2 separate regions of the Homo sapiens genome follow, and region 1 is linked to region 2. The links come from fine-mapping of genetic effects on gene expression. A gene starts in region 2. The other region holds a variant in brackets. All regions are shown on one strand. Distances are from middle to middle.

Region 1 (11,877 bases), 27 kb before region 2:
GTGAGGTAGGTGGATCACCTGAGGTCAGGAGTTGAAGACCAGCCTGACCAACAGTGAAACGCTATCTCTACTAAAAATACAAAATCAGCTGGGCATGGTGGCACACGCCTTTAATCCCAGCTACTTGGGAGGCTGAGGCAGGAGAATGGCTTGAACCTGACACAATTCCAAAAAAAACGCTGGAGGTATTGCCCACAGGTCCTCAGGAACCCTATTTTAAATTTTTAAATAAACTAGTTTTTTGCAAAGAGAAGCAACTCTTTTTTTTTTTTTTTTTTTTGAGACAGAGTCTAGCTCTGCGCCCAGGCTGGAGTGCAGTGGCACCATCTCGGCTCACTGCAACCTCCACCTCCTGGGTTCAAGCAAGTCTCCTGCCTCAGCCTCCTGAGTATCTGGGATTACAGGCACATGCCACCACGCCCGGCTAATTTTTGTATTTTTAGTAGAGACAGGGTTTCACTTGTTGGTCAGGCTGGTCTCAATCTCCTGACCTCGGGATCCATCTGCCTGGTCCTCCCAAAGTGCTGGGATTACAGGCGTGAGTCACCGTGCCCGGCGAGAAGCAACTCTTAAAATACTTTATTCCTTCCTCTAGGACCCTTTAAATGGTGAAAATGGGCAGATGAATAGCAATAAGTGGACCTTTGTTACTCTTCTGAGTTAGAAAAATTCTAATTTAGTACACTCTGAACAAAGCTTATTATACTTACTTAAGATGTGTTTTGATTTGGTGTTCAGAAAGCAACCTGACAATGATAATACTGTAACTATGATAAAATTGAGAATAAAAAGATTTTATTTAGAAATCATAAGTCTGGAATTGAGGTTATTTTAGCCCCACAGTAGAGTATCCTGGAGGGCCAGGTCCTCTATGCTATGTGTATGTAATAGGATTTAGGAGCCTAATATTAAGAGAAGACCTTGTTTCCACTCTCTTCAGATGTACTAGTTGGATCCATGATTGGAATGACATTTGCCTATGTCTGCTATCGGCAGTATTATCCTCCTCTGACTGATGCAGAATGCCATAAACCATTTCAAGACAAACTTGTACTTTCCACTGCACAGAAGCCTGGGGATTCTTATTGTTTTGATATTTAAAAATTGAATCTGGCCGGGCGTGGTGGCTCATGCCTGTAATCCCAACACTTTGGGAGGCTGAGGAGGGTGGATCACCTGAGGTCAGGACCAGCCTGGCCAACATGGTGAACCCTGTCTCTACTAAAAATACAAAAATTAGCCAGGAGTTGTGTGCCGTAATCCCAGCTACCTGGGAGGCTGAGGTAGGAGAATTGCTTGAACCTGGGAGCTGGAGGTTCCAGTGAGCCGAGATCGCACCACTGCACTCCAGCCTAGGCAACAGAGTGAGACCCCATCTCAAAAAAAAAAAAAATTGAATCTATCTCAATAGAGAACAGGTGAACTAGCCCTCCTAACCGGACCATGCACAAGACAAGAAATTCTAGCCTTTTTTTCCCCTTCCAAGGTGCAAGTGAGGACATAAGCCACACTGTATTCTGCCTCCAAATGATTACACACTTTTGCCCCTGCTCATCTATCTTGAGGAGTTACGGTTCTTTTCCACTACTGTATGCCACATGTTCTAGTAAAAGGATCTTTCAAAGGTGTCCAACACCTTATGAATCTGGTCTATCAGATTAATATCTGAAGATCTACAGTGTTTTTACATTTAATTTAAATGCCATTCTTAGAAGGATCTTGTCACAAAGAAGCCTTTACATAGCCCCACCTTGTCTCAGAAGCTAGAGTTCATTATCAAAACTTAATTTCCATTTCATATAGCTCAAAATCTTAAAATCTAGGGCATGGCCAACTAAATTACTTTGATTCTGTTTACCTTCTCTGATGACAATTCCATCAAGCCTTAAATAGGAAAATGTCGAATCTAGGGTAATTTATCACTTTTGTGTGCATCTTATCTGAGTCCAGCCATCTGGTACTGCTGTGCATTTTGAACACCGTGGGCATAAACAATTTGTTGAATTACTAAGTGAAAACAATAATAAAGAAGAAAATGGTCAGGAGTGTGGTTTCAGCACTACTAACAGATGACTGTTTCTACCTCATTTGACCATAACTGTACTTGTGAGCTTCTTTCCTTCCATTCATGACTGAAGATCTGCTCAAATGCACCAACACTGCCAAGTGACTAAGGTAGAAAAGAAAAATGACAGGTATCGTCATCTGAAGGACAGATGAATCTTTTTCTGCCCCTTCTTCACAATGGAATATAAGGAACAATTATGGGATGTCATCAGAATGGATGCCATAGGACCTACAGCTCCCTTTCTCTTTATTGTGATTATACTTTAAATATGACATTGTCTTTTATGTGTATGTTCCTATATTTTCAATGTATCTTTTTCCTTCAGTAAACCTGATATTCAAATAAAATGGTAAATGTGTGCTTTTTTAAATATTTAAAGTACATTAAGGGGCTGGAACTTTAGTAAAGCAAAACATTGAATTCCCCATCCGCCCTAAGTGATTCAACTGCTGTTATCTATAGTACTGGCTAATATTTATAAATACCAAAGGAAAGTCTCTTATAATTGCCATGCTTTAAATTCTGAACTTAAATTCTGCCTATGACAATTAAAATACCAGTCAACAGGAAAGAACTTACATATTAGTTCTTTGCCCAAAACCTATTTTTTTGTTTTAGTAATACATAAAGACAGAGAAAATCGTGACTGTACTGATTTTCTTGACTTTGAGACGGGTGAGTCCAGGTAAAAGTAGGCCACTAGTCAATATGGTTTCATGTTAGTATTTACTAAAGTTTTAAATATAATCACGTAGAAAACAAACATTTCAAAAATGCAAAATATTAGAAATCTAATCAGTGCTATTAATCTTTCCATGCAAACAATCTCTTTTGCTGAGATAAGTGATACTAGTTCTGCAGCTGGGAATATGTACAAAATGATGCTGTACCAGAGTTTAAAAATAGGGTTGGTCTAGAGATTGCACATGATACAAATGAAGCAGCGCAAATAATATATGACTAAATACAGGATTTCAATCAAGCTTATCATCCTGGGAATATACAGCTATAATACCATGAATAGACAAGATATAAAGCTCTTTCACAGTTACCCACCCCTCACCACTAGGAAAGAAACATTTCTTAATACAAAGAGTGGTTTATCTGGCTATCCAGGGCTATGCTGTCCATCTTTGGTTATAGGGACTCCCTCTGCTTATCCTTTGGTTTACTCTTAAATAGCACCTATTCTGCCAATAGGAAGAGTAAACATAAATTTGAAGACCACAACTTGGCAAAAGCTTCCCCTTAATATACAGTGAATACTTAATTCTCAATAACTCAGAGTTTATATACCTTTAAAAAAATAAAGTATTCCATATATCTGAAACTTAGTGGCATACTTAGCACTAGACTATAAGCAGATGACAAAGAAAGGCCAGGCCTGACCTATACCCCAACCTTACCTCTACAATCTCCATGGTGACAGTAATTACCCTTCATTTTCCTTTTCTTTCCAGAAAGGGATAAAGACCACTGCTGTCTAAGGAATGGCTTCAGTAAATATTAAATGTCAGTGGCTTTGAATACCATAACATTTATAAAAAAATTTATAAACAATAAACCACAGCTCGCCTGCCTTTGCCACTCTATAAACAGAGGCCTGTGGAATCTGAGAGCAAGTATAAAGGATTATCATAAAGAGAACTACAAAGACAATGACAAACTGACCAATGAAGAAGAAAAATCTACAGCAAAGTAGTGAAAAGATGCCTTGACAAAATTAGTGTGCAGTCACTTGTGTTCTTAGAAGTAAACCTCACTTCATATGTTCCAGACTCAGCTGACACTGACTCTGGAATAGCTGTTTCTTGGACCCTACAGACATAAGTTTTTCTTTCAGAACAAGTTAAACATTTCCCCCTAGCCAAACCTACCTGCTCAACCAATGCTGCCCGTGCCAAGAGCCTTTTAAATATGCTTTGTGGATTATGGATACCTAAGAAGGAAAGAGGATACACAATACTACCTTAGCTCAAGTAGAAATGGCAGGTGACAAATTCTGTTTCACCATAAAGGCACCACTAAAAGGTTTTATTTAGAACCTCAGCAGCCTGTAGAGGCTACACAATTTCAGGTTCATCAGCTTTTACAACTATTTTCAACGTAAGAATAGAAGCTATTAGCAAATAACTTCTATCAAATATAAAAGGGAGGCCTAGGATATACAACATCTTTGCTTTATAAAGATGCACCTAACATGAACTAACTTGTCAACTTTAGACTCTTACAGCAGCTCAAACAGTTGCAAAAACAATGAACATCAGTGATTTCTGGCAATAAGTCTGTCAGTTCTAAGAGAGTAAACAACACTTTTTTAAAGCTACATTCTAGTCTTTCTTCATACACTACACATAAGAAAGAAATGCAGGTTCAAAAATAAATCACCCAAAAGTCTTTTCCATGTCCACTGAGACTTAGCCTTCAGTTCAACACAA[ACAAG/G]AGATAAGTGTACTCCAAAATGCCTTCTGAATCTCAAGAATCTGTTTCCAAACTAGAACATTTTCTAAAGATAAGCAATAAGTTCCTTAAAAACATGTCTACCCCACCCAAAACAAATCAAACCCAAAATAGGCTTTACACCCTGTCAAGTACTAATCAATAAAGTGTGGCAACTATAAACTATCATCAAAGAATTAAAGACACAAACCACCCCCAGCTATGCAGAAAAAAATGGCAAGTGTTTATATGAAGCCAGTGGTTAAAAGTAATAGGGCCTTTTGCTTTTCCATTCATTTCCAAAGAGGAAGATTATCTTCCAAAGACCCCAGTGGTGAGTAAGTGGCAGGCAACATGCAGGAAATGACGCAGCTGAGGAGAGGAAAATTGCAGCAACAAACAGGTGGATTTTCTGGGGAAGGATCCCTCAATGTCCGTCTAGGGAAGAAAGTGGGAGAAGAGCTGCAGTCACAACTGGAAGGCAACCACAGAGAATGCCAGAGTCGAATACACAGACTTTGTAATTTCACATCTAAAAGGCTGAGTAATTTAAATCTCAGGATGGGTGGTTGGTAATTAAAATCATAACTGTTGCCACAGTAACTCTTAGATAACAGAACCATTAAAACTCTGAGTTTAGATCCTAAAAAATGACAGGTGTCATTGGACAAAATCTCTAGCAAAACAGACATACACTAATCTTCCTCTAAATGGGCTACTGTGTTTTTTTCCCCATGAATTTCTACCAGTCCCTCTAAAAATGAATAGCAGCCTAGATCTTGGTGACAGGCAACAGCTAGTATATTTAAAAAGAGCTTGAGGCTCCATAGTTCATTATAACATGTTAATATGTAAGAATTACACTATATATATGACATTTTAAAACTTACATTAAGCAGCCATAGATGGGTCATTTTTACTGTAAAGGCTGATCAAGGAAGATACCCTGGGTTTGGTAGATCTCTTTGAGGACGAGCAATACTGTATCTTCAGACTCCCTATAAAGAGAAAAAATTATGTTGAGAAAAGGAACTAACACTTGTGCCAAATGTTTTACATATATTATCTCATTTAATCCATACAACCATCTTGCAAGTTTATTTTTTACTTCTGCAAAGAAATGAGATTCAGAAGTAATGTAATTGGCAGTGGTTTGGAAGGTGACCTGGCAAAGAACTCTGGCATTAAGTCTAGTAATATAAAAAAGCTAGGAAGAGAGGCCAGGTGCGGTGGCTCATGCCTGTAATCCTAACACTCTGGGAGGCTGAGGTGGACAAGTCACTACAGGTCTGGAATTTGAGCCAGCCTGGCCAACATGGTGAAACCCCATCTCCACTAAAAATACAAAAACTAGGGCTGGGCACGGTGGCTCACGCCTGTAGTCCCAGCACTTTGGGAGGCCAAGGTGGGTGGATCACAAGGTCAGGAGTTTGAGACCAGCCTGGCCAATATGGTGAAACCCCATCTCTACTAAAAATACAAAAATTAGCAGGGTGTGGTGGTATGCGCCTGTAGTCCCAGTTACTGGGGAGACTGAGGCAGAAGAATTGCTTGAACCCAGGAAGCGGAGGTTGCAGTGAGCCGAGATTGCACCACTGCACTCCAGCCTGGCAGATAGGCGAGACTCCGTCTAAAAAAAAAAAAAAAAAACTAGCCAGGCGTGGCAGCATGCGACTGTAGTCCCAGCTACTCAGGAGGCTGAGGCAGGAGAATCGCTTGAACCGAGGAGGCAAAGGTTGCAGTGAGCCGAAGGTTGCAGAGTGTCACTGCACTTCAGCCTGGGCGACAGAGTGAGACTCCATTTCAAAAAAAAAAAAAGCCAGTAAGAAATAACCAAGAATTGTTCCTTTTCCACAGAGATCATTCTAGAGACACTATTGAAGAGTTATCCAGTTGGTCACCTTAATTTTTAAAATATTATGCACTTTTTGGAAAAGGTAATACAATCATAAGGTTCCAAATTCCAACAATATAAGAAAGTAACGAAGTCTCCCTCCCACCTTTGTTCCTCAACCACCACCAGTTCCCATCTTCTGACAACCAATGTTATCAATTTCTCATGCGTTTTCCAGATATTATTCTACGTATGCACAAGCAATTACTTATATCCACACTTCATAACAAAATTTGATTTAAAAAGATTAACACTCATGAGGGACTGCCTTAAGGATATAAGCCTCTATTATTCTTCTAGATCTGTGGTTCAACATTTATTGAGTCATGCATCCTTTTGAGAATCTAATGAAATTACGGATTCTTCCCCAGAAAGGATCACATTGCAACCACAATTATAAATGTGTATTTCATTGGATTCACAGACTTCCCTCATCTCCCACAAACTCATATACACAGACCCCAGCTTAAGAAATTCCTGTATCAACAAGTGGGAATTAGCTCTATCAGATATTAAAATGGTACATAAATAAGCAAATCAACAAGTAAGAAGTTGAGAAATAGTCCCATTTATGTATAGGAATTTAATTAAGTGGCCAGGCACGGTGGCTCACACCTATAATCCTAACACTGGGAGGTCGAGGCAGGCAGATCACCTGAGGTCAGGCGTTCGAGACCAGCCTGGCCAACATAGTGAAACCCCATCTCTACTAAAAATACAAAAATTAGCTGGGCATGGTGGCACATGCCTATAGTCCCGGCTACTCAAGAAGCTGAGGCAGGAAAATCATTTGAACCCAGATGGCGTAGGTTGCAGTGAGCCAACTACTGCACTACTGCACTTCAGCCTGGGCAACACAGCAAGACTCTGTCTCAAAAAAAAAAAAAAGAATTTAATTAATTTAATTTAGAATCTCAAATCTATTAATAGTGTTGAGACGTGGGGAAAAAAGGACCTGAATCTGAATCAAAGATTTATATGTAAAAATTAGATATAAAATATTAGAATAGCCAGGCATGGTGTTGCACACCTGCAGTCCCAACTACTCAGGAGGCCAAGGCAAGAGGATTGCTTGAGCCCAGGAATTCAAGGGTCTAGTGCACTAAGATCATGCCTGTGAGAAGCCACTGCATGCAAGATCCTGTTTCTAAAAAAAATTATATATATAACAATATACTGTGTTGGCTGGGTGCAGTGGCTCACGCCTGTAATCCCAGCACTTTGGGAGGCTGAGGTGGGATCACTTGAGGTCAGGAGTTTGAGACCAGCCTGACCAACATGGTGAAACCCTGTCTCTACTAAAAAGACAAAATTAGCCAGGTATGGTGGTGCACACCTGTAATGCTGGCTACTTGGGAGGCTGAGGCAGGAGAATCACTTGAACCTGGCAGGCAGAGGTTGCAGTGAGCCGAGATCACACCATTGCACTCTGGCCTGGGCAACAGGGTGAGATTCCATCTCAAAAAAAAAAAAAAAAAAAATACTGTGGTAAGAATTTTTTTGGAAAGTAAGGAAGATCTTTCTGAGTATGACACAAATTCCAGAAACCAAAAAGCAAATGACAACACATTTGATTACATAAAAATAAAAATTTTGAGCAGGCGCAGTGGCTCATGCCTGTAATCCCAGCACTTTGGGAGGCAGGGGCAGGTGGATCACCTGAGGTCAGAAGTTTGAGACCAGCCTGGCCAACATGGTGAAACCCCATCTCTACTAACAATACAAAAATTAGCTAGGCATGGTAGCGCACACCTGTAATCCCAGCTACTCAGGAAGCTGAGGTACAAGAATTGCTTGAACCTGGGAGGCAGAGGTTGCAGTGAGCCAAGATCGTGCCACAGCACTCCAGCCTGGGTGACAGAGTGAGACTCCTTCTCAAAAAAAAAAAAAAAAAAAAAAAAAAAACTTGTTGGCCAGATATGGTGGCTTACACCTGTAATCCCAGCACTTTGGGAAGCCAAGTGGGAGGATCACTGGAGCCCAGGAGTTCAAGACCAGCCTGGGCAACATGGCAAAACCCCATTTCCACAAAAAAATTTGAAAAATTAGCTGGGCATAGTGTTACACACCTGTGGTCCTAGCTACTCCCAGCTGCTCAGGAGGCTGAGATGGGAGGATGGCTTGAGTCCAAGGTCAAGGCTGCAGTGAGCTATAATCGCACCACTGCACTCCAGCCTGGGTGATAGAGTGAGACTGCCTCACAAAAATAAAAATAAAAAATAAAAAAAAGTTGATGTGGAGCAACTGAAACTCTCAAACACTGCTGATGGAGATGTAAACTGCTGGTGGCAAAACAGTTTGGCAGTTTCTTTTAAAAATACACTTCCATATAGTATCCACCCATTCCATTCCTATTTACCCAAGAATATGTCCATGTAAAGTCTTATACATGAATGTTCCTAGCAGCTTTGTTAATAGCCAAAAACTGGAAACTATCAAAATATCCATCAACAGGTAAATGGACAAACTGATATATCCATATAATGGAATACTACTCAGCAATAAAAAGGATATGCTATTGATATACACAACATTGATCATGTCTATAATACCAACAGCTTGGGGGGCCAAAGCAAGAGGACTGCTTGAGGCCGGGAGTTTGACACCAGCAGGGGCAACATAGTGAGACCCCATCTCTACGAAAATAAATTTAAAAAAAATTAGGCCCAGTGGCACATGCCTGCAGTCCCAGCTTCTTGGGAGGCTGAGATGGGAGGATCCCTTGAGCCTAAGAGGATCCCTTGAGCCCAGAGATCTAGGCAACAGTGAGCCATGATTGTGTCACTGCACTCCAGCCTGGATGACAGAACAAGACTATCTCAAAAAAATAAATAAATAAATAAATAAGCTAAACGCCAAACAACAAAAGTATATACTGTAGGATTCCAAATACAAGTCATAAGCAAACTAATCTACAGTGGCAGAACAGAGCAGTGGCTCCCTGGAAATTAGGAGGAGTGGGGAAGAGAAAAGAAGGGAGGGATTACAAAAGGCACAAGGAAACTTTTGAGAGTGATGAATATGTTAAGTTGATTGTAGTGATGGCTTCACAGGTGTATACATGTCAAAACTCATCAAATGTGTATTCTTTTAATATGTACAGTATATTGTACATTTTCACCCAACAAATTGGCAAAGATTTAAAAATATTAAAACTGTTGGAAAAGCTGTGGAGAAACACACACTTTCGTACATTATTGCTGGGAGTATAAAAAGGTACAACCTCTTATTTGTCAATATTTATCAAATTTTACAAATGTATATACCCTTTATGCCATTGATTTCAATTCGAAGTATTTTACATTACAGATATACTCATGAGTAGGTGAAATGACATGAACAAGGTGTGTGCAAAAGAAAAGGAAACCTGAAAGTCCATGAGTAGAGGACGGCTTAAATAAATTATGGTGTATTTACATAACGGAAGACTATGCAGCTAAAAAAAAAAATGAGGAAACAACATATAATAGGTTAAAAAATGCCAAGATATACTAGTAGAAAAAACAAGGCACAGAACATTGCCTTTAATTTACTATTTATGTTTTTAAAATAAGGGAAAGAATATATTCACATACATATATTTATTATGGAGGCATAAAATAGATGGCTGGAAGACATTTTACATTAGTTGTATATGGGGAAGAAACTGATTGCAAGAAACAAAATAAAAAAGAGGCTTTTCATTATTTTTCTTTCTTTGAATTTCAAACCATATGAATGTACTGCCCACACAGAAATATTAAAAGAACTCTGCTTTCTTTTCTATCAAGCCAGATCACCAGAGATCATTCTTAGCATTATTTTAGCCCCTTACAAGATTGCTTTTGGCCTCTACTGTATATATTATATACAAACGATAGTGATTGCATCAGATGATAATTCCTCATCAGAATTCAAGGGAAAAATTATTCTTAGGACCTTTGAGCTTGCTTTTTTTTTTTTTTTTTTTGAGATGGAGTCTCGCTCTGTCACCCAGGCTGGACTGCGGTGGCCGTGATCTCGCTCACTGCAACCTCTGCCTCCCAGGTTCAGGCAATTCTCCTGTCTCAGCCTCCCTAGTAGCTGGGACTACAGGCATGCACCACCACACCTGGCTAATTGTATTTTTGGTAGAGACAGGATTTCGCCATGTTGGCCATGCTGGTCTGAGCTTTCATTTTTAAAACACTTATCTCTGACCCATCTTATTTCCCTTACTTTATTTTTATGTCAACTTCTTCAGGGATTAATTAGTATTATTTTATACTATTTTTTTTCAGACATGGTCTCGCTCTGTCACTCAGGCTAGGGTGCGGTGGCACCATCATGGCTCACTGCAGCCTTCAACTCCTGGCCTCAAGCAATCCTCCTTCCTCGGCCTCCCAAAGTGCTGGGATTATAAGCATGAGCCACCATACCCGGCCTGAATTTCAATAAGCATCATTAATCCATTCTACAATCCATCAGGTAACCAATTATATTTAATAATAATTCTGCCCAGGCGTGGTGGCTCATGCCTGTAATTCCAGCACTTTGGGAGGCAGAGGTGGAGGCGGATTGATTGCTTGAAGTTTAGACCAGCCTGGGCAACATGGCGAAACCCTGTCTGTACAAAAATTAGCTGGGCATGGTGGTGCACAACGGTCATCCTACTTATTAGGGAGACTGAGGGGGGAGGATCACTTGAGTCCAGGAGGTCAAGGCTGCAGTGAACCATGAGCATGCCACTGCACTCCAGCCTGGGTGACACAGCAAGACCCTGTCTCAAATAATGATAAAATAATAATAATTAATTCTGTCACAGCTACCATAAATGCTTTCAAATGGGTTTGCTATAAGACTTCCAGCAACAGTAATATTTGTTCCAGTTCATTCATGTGCACCTAAATGGCCAAAAGACACATTTTTAACACCAAGATAATTGAACTTATGGTTGTTGGCATCATTAGCCTCAACCATGTTCTACCCAGCTGCAAAATAAAACAACAGTGTGTTTAAACCAGATTCTTGAAATGACATGATTGTGCTTGTGCTGTCTAAATGAGAAGTCATTTTAATTCCAAAGGTACACAGGTCTTTTTTTTTTTTTGAGACAGGGTCTTGCTCTGTCACCCAGGCTAGAGTGCAGTGGTGTGATCATGGCTCACTGTGGTCTCAAACTCCTGGGCTCAAGTGACTCTCCTGCCTCAGCCTCCCAAGTAGCTGGGACTATAAGCGCATACCACCACGCCCAGCTAATTTAGTTTTTGTAGAGATGAGGTCTTGCTATGTTTCCCAGGCCGGTCTCAAACTCCTGAACTCAAGCAATCCTCCCACCTTGGCCTCCCAAAGTGCTGAGATTATAAGCCTGAGCCAATGCACCTGGCCTATCCTCCTTTTTCTACATCTATCAAATATCTATGAAACAGGTAAACAAACAAAACAGACAAAAATAAACAACATTTACCAGTAGCATAGATGGCTTTGTAAAGCAAATAAATACTCATTAAAACTTTCA
Region 2 (12,161 bases):
CACACACACACACACATTTATTTTTCTGAATCATTAGAAAGCAGACTACATACATCATCAGGTTGCATGCACCATACCTCTTTAACCCTTTAATACCATAATGTGTATTTCCTAAGTATATTATCTTACATAACCATAATACAGTTATTGAATCCAGGCAACTGAACATTGATAAAATACTTTTATCTAGTATTTCATTTTTATCAATGTTTGGTATGTTTTTAAAGCCTGAAATTTTAAACTCATCTTTTTAAATTACAGTAAAGCTAGGATTTTGTCCAAGAGACAAGAAAAAAGGAATATTATAATCCAATTAAATATATTATAAAACCATAAGTGACCCTACCTAGATAGCAGTGCATAATCAGGTCCTGCTGAAAAACAGTTTTCCTTAGTTGAAAATCTTCAAGGACAAGGAGTTATTACCAGGTATAAATTTCTAGTCAAGTAGGTGGAATCACACTTCTTGGAATTAGGACTAAATCAGTTCATCTGTACTTAGTGACTTCCTGGATAGTATTGCCAAATTTTACCCATCCTACCATATGTTTTAAAAGATATTTTTACATCTATTAAGATTCTTAGTAGACGAAGTGATGCTAATCTCAACTTGGAATAAACCCATATGATTAAAGATGATTTTTAAGCCTTGAGGTAATCTAAATCCACAGAAAAAGGTCACAATTTAAGGAGTAAACAAATACATCCAAAGGTAAGAAAAAATAAACGATTAACATTACCACAATGAATGTCAACAGAGATGTTCTCAACTCCTCTCTTCACAGTTCTTGGTCGACCCTGCTCCGTGGGTGTTGAACCCCAATCATCAGACCCTGCAACTGGCTGGTAATGCACCATAAGCTTAAACAGAACAGATCAGAGCAATAAAAATATTCTGCAATACAATCATCTCTATACAATGCAGTTTTAAGTGTAGAATCATGTCTTTCAAACCACACAGTAAAATCTGAACTGGAGTTTTGATATACAACTCGTATGGCTTGAAATGAGAACCGTGAAAATATATTAGGCTAACAGATCTGTCAATAGTCCCTTTCTACATGGAAGACATGCTCACATAATATGTCAGTGATTTTCTTATTCTACAGTGGCATAATTTTCCATAAGAAAATTATTTTGTATAAGCTGAGTTGGGTAAATAACAGTAGTGGCTACAAGTTTTTAAGTTTCATAACTGTGAATTCAATATAAAATTTGACAAAGGTTATCCTACACAGAGTGCTTAGCAAAAGAAACCAATTGAGTTCTCCCTAATAGCGCAATTAACTTTTTATCCCGACAAGAGAAATGCTTTGTTTTACCTTTGGATTGTGTAAAATAATAATTTCTCTGTTGGGAGATTCCAGTTTCTTTTTCCATTCATCCAAAGTTACAGCAAGCATGTAAGTTTCCTTAAAAGAAAACACATTTCATTAGAGTTCTCTAGTAGCTTTCCTATTAAACTGAACCTATTAACAAGAATACTATGTATTAATGAGTTTCAATAAGAATATCCTACTCCAATTTATCAAATTTATTTTTAAATCTTTTTGTTGTTGTTGTTGTTTGTTTTGTTTTGTTTGTCTTACTCTGTCGCCCAGGCTGGGTTGCAGTGGCACAATCTCGGCTCACTGCAACCTCCGCCCCCCAGGTTCAAGCAGTTCTCTTGCCTCAGTCTCCCAAGTAGCTGGGATTACAGGCACCCGCCACCACATTCGGCTAACTTTTGTAGTTTTAGTAGATACGGGGTTTGGCCATAATGGCTAGGCTGGTCTCAAACTCCTGACCTCAGGTGATCTGCCTGCCTCGGCCTCCCAAAGTGCTGGGATTACAAGCATGAGCCACAGCACCCAGCCTATTTTTAAATTATTTTGAAATTACAACTGATAGTAGCACCAGGACAAAGGGGGAAAAATACTCCTAATTCCATCATCTACGCTAGATAATTAGTGTTCACATTTTAATATATTAATATTAATGTTCTAGACCAGGCGTGGTGGCTCATGCCTGTAATCACAATACTTTGGGAGGCCAAGGCAGGAAGATCACCTGAGGTCTGGCATTCGAGACCAGCCTGGCCAACACGGCAAAACCCCATTTTTACTAAAAATACAAAAATTAGCCAGTGTGAGCCGGGCGCGGTGGCTCACGCCTATAATCCCAGCACTTTGGAAGGCCAAGGCGGGTGGATCACCTGAGGTTGGGAGTTCGAGACCAGCCTGACCAACATGAAGAAATCCCATCCCATCTCTACTACAAATACAAAATTAGCCAGGCATTGTGGCACATGCCTGTAATCCCAGCTACTCGGGAGGCTGAGGCAGGAGAATCGCTTGAACCCAGGAGGCAGAGGTTGCGGTGAGCTGAGATCGCGCCACTACACTACAGCCTGGGAAACAAGAGTGGAACTCCGTCTCAAAAAAAAAAAATTAGCCAGTGTGGTGAGGCACGCTTGTAATCCCAGCTACTTAGGAGGGTGAGGCAGGAAAAGTGCTTGAACCCAGGATGCAGAGGTTGCAGTGAGCCGAGATCGCACCACTGGACTCCAGCCTGGGCAACAGAGTGAGACTCTGTCTCAAAAACAAAAACAAAAACAAAAACAAAAAAAGCAAAAAAAAAAAACCAAAAACAAGAAAAAGGCTGGGCGTGGTGGCTCACGCCTGTAATCCCAGCACTTTGGGAGGCCGAGGCGGGCGGATCACGAGGTCAGGAGCTTGAGACCATCCTGGCTAACACGGTGAAACCCCGTCTCTACTAAAAATACAAAAAATTAGCTGGGCGTGGTGGCGGGCGCCTGTAGTCCCAGCTACTTGGGAGGCTGAGACAGGAGAATGGCAAGAACCCAGGAGGCAGAGCTTGCAATGAGCCAAGATCGTGCCACTGCACTCCAGCCTGGGAAACAGAACGACACTCTTGTTTCAACAACAACAAAAAATACTAACGCTCTACTCCAATTTAAAGAAAAATTTCAGTTTTCAGAGCAAGAAAAATAAAAGCTAAAAAAGATCAATCCTGTGACCATAGCATAATACAGTTTGCATTTGTATTTGTGTGTGTGTGTGTGTGTGTGTGTGTGCGCGTGTACTTTTTTTTGTAGTGGTGGGGTCTTGCTTTGTTGCCCAGGCTGTTCTCAAATTCCTGGGCTCAAGTCATCCTCCTGCCTTGGCCTCACAATGTGCTGGGATTACAGGTGAGAGCCACTGTGCCCACCAGTTTTTTTTTTTTTTTTTGAGATGGAGTTTTGCTCGTTGCCCAGGCTGTAGTTCAATGGTGCGATCTCCACTCACCACAACCTCCACCTCCCGGGTTCAAGCAATTCTCTTGCCTCAGCCTCCCAAGTAGCTGGGATTACAGGCGTGCACCACCGTGCCCAGCTAATTTTGTATTTTTAGTAGAGACGAGGTTTCTCCATGTTGGTCAGGCTGGTCTCAAACTCCCAACCTCAGGTGATCCGCCCACCTCAGCCCCCCAAACTGCTGGGATTACAGGCGTGAGCCACCAGGCCCGGAGTATTTTTTTCTTTTTTTACACCTTAAAACACCACAACCATTTCCATCGTATTTTAAAATCTGAAAAAGGCCAAGCACAGTAGCTCACACCTGTAATCCCAGCACTTTGGGAGGCCGAGGCCAGCAGATCATTTGAGGTCAGGAGTTCGAGACAAGCCTAGCCAACATGGTGAAACCCCATCTCTAATAAAAATCAGTAGGAACAACTCTCCCATTACAATATTTTCCTTTCAAGGATTGAAAAGGGGAAAAGAAGTACATATTTCAAAATAAATCTCCCAACATACAATTCTGAGTTATATTCTAAATAATGTTATGAAACACATGAATGAACAGTTCCTACTTGGCTAAACACCAAACAAAATGGAATCTAATTCATATCTTTTTCACTACCTACTTTACAAACCGTCAAACCATTCCTGATTTTAATGAAACATGAAAAAAAATACTACCCAAACAGTTTTGTTCTTTTTCTGAGGAAAGATAGCAGTGCCCCTTAAAAAAAATTAGCCAGGTGTGGTGGCGGCCACCTGTAATCCCAGCTACTTGGGAGGCTGAGGCATGAGAATCACTTGAACCGGGGAGGTGGAGGTTGCAGTGAGCCAAGATCGCACCACTGCACTCCAGCCTGGGCAACAGAGCGAGACTCCGTCTCAAAAAAAAAAAAAAAATCTGAAAATAAGACTACTTTATCCTGAAACTTGCTTGTAAATAGAAATGCTTTATTATGTTTTATAATGTGATGCAGACAGAACCAAAGTCTTTCTGGAAATTTCACAAAATAAATTACAAAGGAAAGAAAAGATTATTAAATAAGAGAAAGAAAGAATAAGTAAAAAAAGAGTCAAAAGAATACCTCTAAAACTTGGCTGAAGCTCTCCGAGTAGGGAACATACTTATTGTCTTTGTCCCCCTTGTAAAACCACGTACATCGTCTCACTTCCGATGCCAGTTCATCCCAGTATACAGCATACCGCATCCTCTCCCCCAAATGAACATCATATCTGCCCCCATCAGTAGGAACAACTCTCCCATTACAACCTTTTCCTTTCAAGGATTGAAAAGGGGAAAAGAAGTACATATTTCAAAATAAATCTCCCAACATACAATTCTCAGTTATACTCTAAATAATGTTATGAAACACATGAATGAAAAGTTCCTACTTGACTAAACACCAAACAAAATGGAATTTAATTCATATCTTTTTCACTACCTACTTTACAAACCGTCAAAACCATTCCTGATTTTAATGAAATATGAAAAAAATACTACCCAGTTTTGTTCTTTTTCTGGGGAAAGATAGCAGTGCCCCTTAAAAAAATTATATAATGTGATTTTTCTGAATTTGCTTGAGGAACCATAAGGTAAATTAATAACCATCATGATGATTCAGTATAAATAGAATCATTCTTGTTTTATAAAAGAAGAAAAGACAAGTGACAAGTTAGAGAGTTCATTCTTCTGCACCCCACTCTATACATACTTTTTTCTTTTCTTTTCTTTTTTTTTTTTTGAGACAAGTCTCACTCTATCACCCAGGCTGGAGTCCAGTGGCACAATCTTGGCTCACTGTAACCTCCGCCTCCCGGGTTTGAGCAATTCTCCTGCCTCAGCCTCCCAGGTAGCTGAGACTACAGGCACAAACCCCGCCGCCCAGCTAATTTTTGTATTTTTAGTAGAGAAGGGGTTTCACCATTGCTGGCCAGGCTAATCTCAAACTCTGACCTCAAGTGATCTGCTCGCCTTGGCCTCCCAAAGTGCTGGGATTACAGGTGTGAGCCACTGTGCCCAGCCTTACACATTCTTTATAAAACAAAGTAAAACATAAGCTAGAACATTAAAGATATTACTGGGGGGCTGGGCACAGGGTGTAACACGCCTGTAATCCCAGCACTTTGGGAGGCCCAGTCAGAAAGATTGCTTGAACCTAGGAGTTCAAGACCAGCCTAGACAATATAATTAGGCCCCCAACTCTAAGGAAAAAAAAATTATTGGGTAACTATGCAGAAATAATAATAGATACTGTTTTCAAAATACAGACCAAATTCTTGAATATTATTGATTGGCTAGGTATTAGTGCAGAAGTTCTATATAAAATGCTGTAAGAAATTATGTAACTGGAAAAATCTAAAATTTGGTTTTCATAGCACTCACTATAAGGACCATTATATTATAGTTTGAAGAGGGGAGAGTCTTTGTCTATTCCAAGTCATAATTTTCACCTACCAGAGCTATATGCCTCTTCCAGCTGCTGTGAATCCTCAGAGTTGAAAGGAATCCATGTCTCCTTAGAATCTATTATCTTACAATAAAACCAATGGGGAGAAACTGGTTCATACAAGCTGCCAGCATCCATGTCTATTAGCTCAAAGGAACTACATGAGTTTGGTGACGGAGATGGATCTGACTGGGACAACTGCTCCTGTTGTGACTGCACTGATGACATTTCGCTCTCTAAAGACAAAAGAAAACTATCAGGAAAACGAACTTAACTGTGTAACTGTTCGCACACACACACGCACAAAACTAATCATTTTACGGAGCCATTTCTGCAACAACAACAACAACAAAATCTACATAATTTAAAAGAGAAATAACATAAATTAGCAACTGGATGGGTGGAAGCTTTAAATAAAATGCTTCTATTAGATCAACCATTGCACAGAGTTCTCAATTCTCTCAGTAAACTGGGTAATTTTACTCAGTCCATAAGTTATAAAACAAACCCAGAATCACAGGACCACATGCTCGAAACTAGATTGCAACAAAAACATTTTACCCTAATTTCCAATCTAAATGTAGTTAAAGGCAGAAAATTTACTCCAAGTCAGCTGGGTCATGCCCTGTCCTAGTAACGCCAAGGTTTTGGGCTCCAGGCCCCTACCATTACACAACTAATGGAATCTTAAAATACAAAAAATAAAACTGTTCGCTTAGGAACCAATCATTTTTGATGGATCCTTGAAGTCGCTTAATGGGTGGTGGTACAAATTGGGAAAAGACGAAACCTCGCCTGGGGCCACGGTGCGCACACGCACGCCCACTCCCATAGCCAGAATCTCAGATGAAAGCTAACAAGCGACCTCAAAAGCCTCCTCCCGCAGAGGCGGCTCTGACCAGCTGTTTCTACCTCTCCAACACTCCTTCCACTCGGCAACGATCAGCGCCGCAGGCACCAGAAGGACACTTCTAAGCTGCCTCGTAGGGCGGGGGGCAGGAGGGCATCTCGCGCGGGCCCGGCGGGACGGCAGACGCCGGCTTTCGGCTCCATTGTCCTTTTCCCCACACAGACTTACCTCAGCCACCCTGGCGCGCCCCTGGCCCCCGCGACCCTAGGCCCTGGCGCCCCGCTCCGGGCCCTCGGAGCTCGGGCTCAGGTCGTCCGCCCGCAGCCCCGCGACAGCAGCAGGGCAGCCAGTGCAGACCACAGGGTTCACAGGGTGCCCAGGGTTCCCCCAGGCTCGGGGCTTCCCGGGAGCCGAGGTTCCCCCGCCCCGCATCCCGGCCCCGCAGCGCTGCGCCGCCCACCTGCACCCAGCCTGGCCTCCCTCGGTCCAGCCGCCCGCCCGACGCGGTCTCACCTGGCGGCCCCGCCACTCCTCAGGCTCTCCTGCCCTCCCTGAGGAGGACACTGCATGGCCCGGCCGCGGCCTTTACCCCAGCCCGGGCGGGGCGCGGCGGAGCAGGGCGGAACCTGCAGCCCCGCCGGGCTCGCGCCGAACACCAGGCGCCACGGCGCTCCCAGTGGGCGAGTAGCGGGCCCGGATGCCAGGCGAAAAGGTGAGGCGGCGGGGAGCGCGGCGCGCGACCGCGGGTGGGGCGTGCAGGGCCGCAGGGCACGGGCGGCAAGTGTCGCGAGAGGTGGGGGGAGTCGCGCGAGACGTGGCTCCTGCGGGCAGGGAGCTGCAGCGCCGGGCGGCGGGCTGCTGGCTGCTGAGGTCTAACAGTGGGGGAGAGTTTCGAGTGTCCGTGGCGGAAGGGGCTTCGAGATCAGTTTCTAGTATCCGTGACGGCAGGGGCTTCAAGATCAGTTTCGAGTGTCCGTGGCGGAAGAGGCTTCAAGGCGGCCCCTCACGTACGGGGCGGGAAAGTCGGAATGATCCTCGGGATACGCTACAGACCCTACTAGTGCGCCAGGAGCAGCGCGGTGATCACCGGACGCAGGGACTGCGCGGCCCCGGGATTAGCGGAGTAGGGCGGAGGGCGCAGCCACAGCCGCCCCGCTCCTGGCCTCTGCTTCTGGGTGCTGAGAACGGGTGTCACTAGCATTTGCCAGGCAAAAAGGCTTTGGCCCGTCCTCCGTGCATTTATTATGATTTAGAGGTTACCAAAAAGGTATCCCTAAAAAATGTAGAGGTGTCGGGCGTGGTGTCAGCGCCTGGGTCTGAGCTACTCAGGAGGCTGAGGCTGAAGGAGCGCCCCAGCCCATTGGTGCCAGCTGCATGAGCCCAGATGGCGCCAGTGCACTCCAGCCTGGGTAACACTGCGACACTAGTCTCTAAACAAACAATAAAATTAATAATTTTTTTTTGTTTTGTTTTGTAGAGGCAACCTTAACAGGATTTAAAAGATGCCAGGGAGGTTGGAGATGAGATACTGCTGTCCAAACAGGAAGACATAACTGAGGTGAAAAGTTGAAAGGGGCTGGACGCAGTGGCTCACGCTTGTAATCCCAACACTTTGGGAGGCCAGGAGTTCAAGACCAGCCTGGCCAACATGGTGAAACGGCATCTCTACTAAAAATATAAAAATTAGCCGGGGGTGGTGGCTCGCGCCTGTAATTCCAGCTGCTTGGGAGGCTGAGGTGGGAGGATCACTTGAACCCGGGAGGCGGAGGTTGCAGTGAGCCAAGATCGCAGCCACTGCACTCCAGCCTGGGCAACAGAGGGAGACTCCATCTCAAAAAAAGAAAAAAAGAGAAATTTCCCGCAGTCATGAGGTCGAGTACAGGCCCTGCCCGACTCTCCTTAGTATTTCATTTTAATACCTTTTGGTATTTAAAAAGATATTTTCCTATATTCTAACTAGATTATAGGGCATTTTTTTTCAGTTTTTGTGTTTTTGTTTTTTGTTTTTTGTTTTTGAGACGGAGTCTCACTATGTCACCCGGCTGGAGTGCAGTAGCACGATCTCGGCTCACTGCAACCTCCGCCTCCCAGATTCAAGCGATTCTCCTGCCTCAGCCTCCGGAATAGCTGGGATTATAGGCATGCGCCACCGCGCCCAGCTAATTTTTGTATTTTTACTAGAGACGGGGTTTCACCATGTTGGCCAGGATGGTCTCGATCTCTTGACCTCGTGATCCACCCGCCTCGGCCTCCCAAAGTGCTGGGATTACAGGCGTGAGCCACCTTGCCCGGCCTATTTCAGTTTTGTTATTTCTTCACAAACAGAAAAAGAAAACAATTTTTTATAACACATTTATTCTCTTTGCAAATTAACAGCCACACACAAATATCCCCAAGTTAACACCTTCCCTTCAAATTTATTACACTTAGAATAGCTTCTGCAAGGCCGGGCACAGCGGCTCACGCCTGTTAATCTCAGCACTTTGGGAGGCCCAGGCAGGCCGATTTAGCAAGGGGTGGAGCTAAAATCACGAACCCACACAGTGTGACTTCAGAGCCTGCACCTAAGTAACTTGTCTAAAATCAGTCAGGTAAGTGACAGAACTGGAACTTGAATTTAGGTTTTCTATCTTCAAATCCTGTTGTAGCCTCCATACCAGCTGTTCTCAAATTTGGAGGGCTGTCTCAAAAAAAAAGTGGATTGCAATGTGCAGTTTGAAAATATATCAGTAAACTTCACATATTCTGATACTATTAAAATCCATTTTTCTGTCTTGCACTTTGTTTTATTTTTGTTGTTTTGAGTAAAGTGAAAGCAAGTTTATTAAGAAAGTAAAGGAATAAAAGAATGGCTACTCCATAGGCAAAGCAGCCTATCTTGCACTTTGAATGGATCTCTTACCCATGTGTGACTTAAGACATGTATTGTTCATTTGGGAAAGTATCAGTTCACTGAGCTATGTAGATCTTCCAAATGTTAATATATTTTATTATACAATTTTTTAAAAATTACCGATCTCATCAGAAAAGTCTTTAATATTGGGAAGCTGTCAAGCTCAGAGTAGCAGGTACAAGTTTTCCAATATTCTGCTTTTTTCTTAAAAGGTCAAATTTTATCATTGGCAACAAATGATAAATTGTCTTCCTTGAAGTGACAAGTCTCCTTTGTTTTCAAATAAATTTCTGCTAAATACTTACATACAAATAGCCATAGTTTGTCCCTTATACTTTCAAATAAAAATGATGTTGCATGAAAAAAGAGCATCTAGTTCAGCTTCCAATTCAAATAGTCACTCAAGTTCTTTTTCTTCAAGACACCACCATCTTACTTTTGGTATGCAACAAAATGGTTTTATGGGCCACAGTGACTCATGCTGTAATCAAGCACTTTGGGAGGCTGAGGCTGGCGGATTGCATGAGTCCAGAAGTTTGAGACCATCCTGAGCAACATGACGAAACCCACCTCTAAAAAAAAAAAAAAAAATTAGCTGAGCATGGTGGCACAGACCTATAGTCCCAACTACTCAGATGGCTGAGGCGGGAGAATGGCTTGAGCCCAGGAAGGGGAGGTTGCAGTGAGCCGTAATCACTATATCTGGTTAATTTTTAAATTTTTCTTAGAGACAGGGTCTCACTACATTGCCCAGTCTGGTCTTGAACTCTAGGCTCAAGTGATCCTCCCACTTCGGCCTCCTAAAGTGCCCAGCAGGAATCTGCATTTTAAATAGTTACCACACATGATCTGGATGCAAGTATTTGGGATCCACACAGTATAAATTTTAGGTTCCCCAAAAGTCTGCATACATAGGTAGTTTCAGACAAATAGAATATCTTACTGTGCCCCTTAAAAATAAAAACCCATGGCCGGGCGCGGTGGCTCATGCCTGTAAAAACTTTGGGAGGCTGAGGCGGGTGGATCACGAAGTCAGGAGATCGAGACCATCCTGGCTAACACGGTGAAACCCTGTTTCTGCTAAAAATACAAAAAATTAGCCAGGCTTGGTGGTGGGCTCCTGTAGTCCCAGCTACTCAAGAGGCTGAGGCAGGAGAATGGTGTGAACCCGGGAGGCGGAGCTTGCAGTGGCTGAGATCTTGCCACTGCACTGCAGCCTGGGCGACAGAGCGAGACTCTGTCTTAAATAATAAATAATAAAAACACACTTAATGTTACTGGCTGTTGTTTGTGGTTGTATATCAGCCTTTTACCAGACAAGCCTTAACAGGTAAAATGTAAAACAATCTCTACTTTTTCCCTTTCAATGTTCTAGTGCAAGAGGCAGCGAACTTTTTTTCTGTAAAGGGCCAGATAAATTCTTTAGGTTCTGTAGGCCATAAGGCTCTGTCACAACTAATCACTTCTCCTGTTGCAGCACTAAAGCAACCAGAGAGGAGATGTAAACTGATGAGTGTGGCTGTGTCCCAGTAAAGTGCAGGCAGGGGTTTAATTTGATCTCAGGTAGTAGCTTGCTGACCCCATGCTCCTAGTGCAGAAGATAACGCTAATGGCCAGTAAGTTGTTTAAAGAGCAAAACCAAGAATGTAGGGGTCATAAACAACTGGATCTTATATCCAAAGCTGGAATCATTGTTTTTAGAGGCAGAAGTCCTCAATCCCAGATTAACACCTAGGCATCCAGAGTGAAGAAAACTTCACAGTTGTCTCTGACGCTGACTATACAATAACAAGACCAGGGCTTTGGGCTCTGACAGTGATTTTCAAACTTTCACCACTCACTGCAGCTTCGACCTCCCAGGCTCAGATGATCCTCCTACCTCAGCCTTCCAAGTAGCTGAGATCACAGGTGTGCACCACCACATCCTGCGAATTTTTTTATTTGTAGAGACAGGGTCTTACTATGTTGCCCAGGCTGGTCTCAAACTCCTGGGCTCAAGCGATCCTCCCACTTTGGCCTCCCAAAGTGCTGGGATTACAGGCATGAGCCACCACACCCAGGCCTAAGTAGGTTCTTAAAATGTAGATTTTCAGATCCAACATGATCTGAAATGTAGATTCAGAAACATAGATTAAAACGTAGATTTTCAGAATCCAACAAGATTCTGATTTGACTAGAACACTTAATCAGAGGGGTCCATATTGTGATGGTTAATTTTAGGTGTCAGCTTGACTAGATTAAGGAATACCTAGAGAACTGGTAAAACATTACTTCTGGGTGTGTCTGTGATGTGTCTGTGAGGGTGTTTCCAGAAGAGATTGGCATGTGAGGTGGTGAACAAACCTCTTTGAGGGGGCAGAAGGTGTGAAGATAAATTTGTGTCCCATGTGAATGCTCACCAAAGGGTGACCTCAGCAGAAGAGAACTTTAATAACCAAGTAGATAGGATGACCTATTCTGTGGATACTAGTCAGCCTCTGGCCCCTGCCACCCCTGTCATTGCCCAGTCACCCCTGTCATTGCTCATGAAGAAATTGGCCATGGTAGCAGGCATAAATGTTTTTGCATGGCTCAGCAACATGGACTCCCACTCACCAAGGCTGACCTGGCTGTGGCTACCTCTGAGTGCTCAATCTGACAGCAATAGAGACCAGCACTGAGCCCCTGATTGTGGCACCATTACCTGGGGTG

The links. PIP is the estimated chance that this variant, and not a neighbour inherited with it, causes the effect.
Region 1: its variant is the best candidate, but not a certain one, in a credible set for the expression of DDHD2 in whole blood (TOPMed, PIP 0.60).

Annotation. Positions count from the first base shown.
Region 1 is chr8:38,253,668-38,265,544 of GRCh38, reverse strand. DDHD2 (DDHD domain containing 2) reads right to left here. Exons shown (of 18, transcript NM_015214.3): 16 at 11,827-11,877; 17 at 5,398-5,505; 18 at 2,709-4,945. The coding sequence ends at 5,424. PLPP5 (phospholipid phosphatase 5) reads left to right here. Exons shown (of 7, transcript NM_001102559.2): 7 at 941-2,415. The coding sequence ends at 1,101. Among named protein-coding and RNA genes, the nearest start is that of PLPP5, 9.6 kb to the left of the region's middle. The variant ACAAG/G (reference allele first, on the strand shown) is at 4,507.
Region 2 is chr8:38,226,789-38,238,949 of GRCh38, reverse strand. It overlaps DDHD2 (DDHD domain containing 2), which reads right to left and starts at 7,365. Exons shown (of 18, transcript NM_015214.3): 1 at 7,091-7,365; 2 at 5,736-5,963; 3 at 4,366-4,556; 4 at 1,323-1,412; 5 at 741-861. The coding sequence starts at 5,955. RefSeq lists an enhancer at 6,564-7,063 and silencers at 6,723-7,392, 7,963-8,012.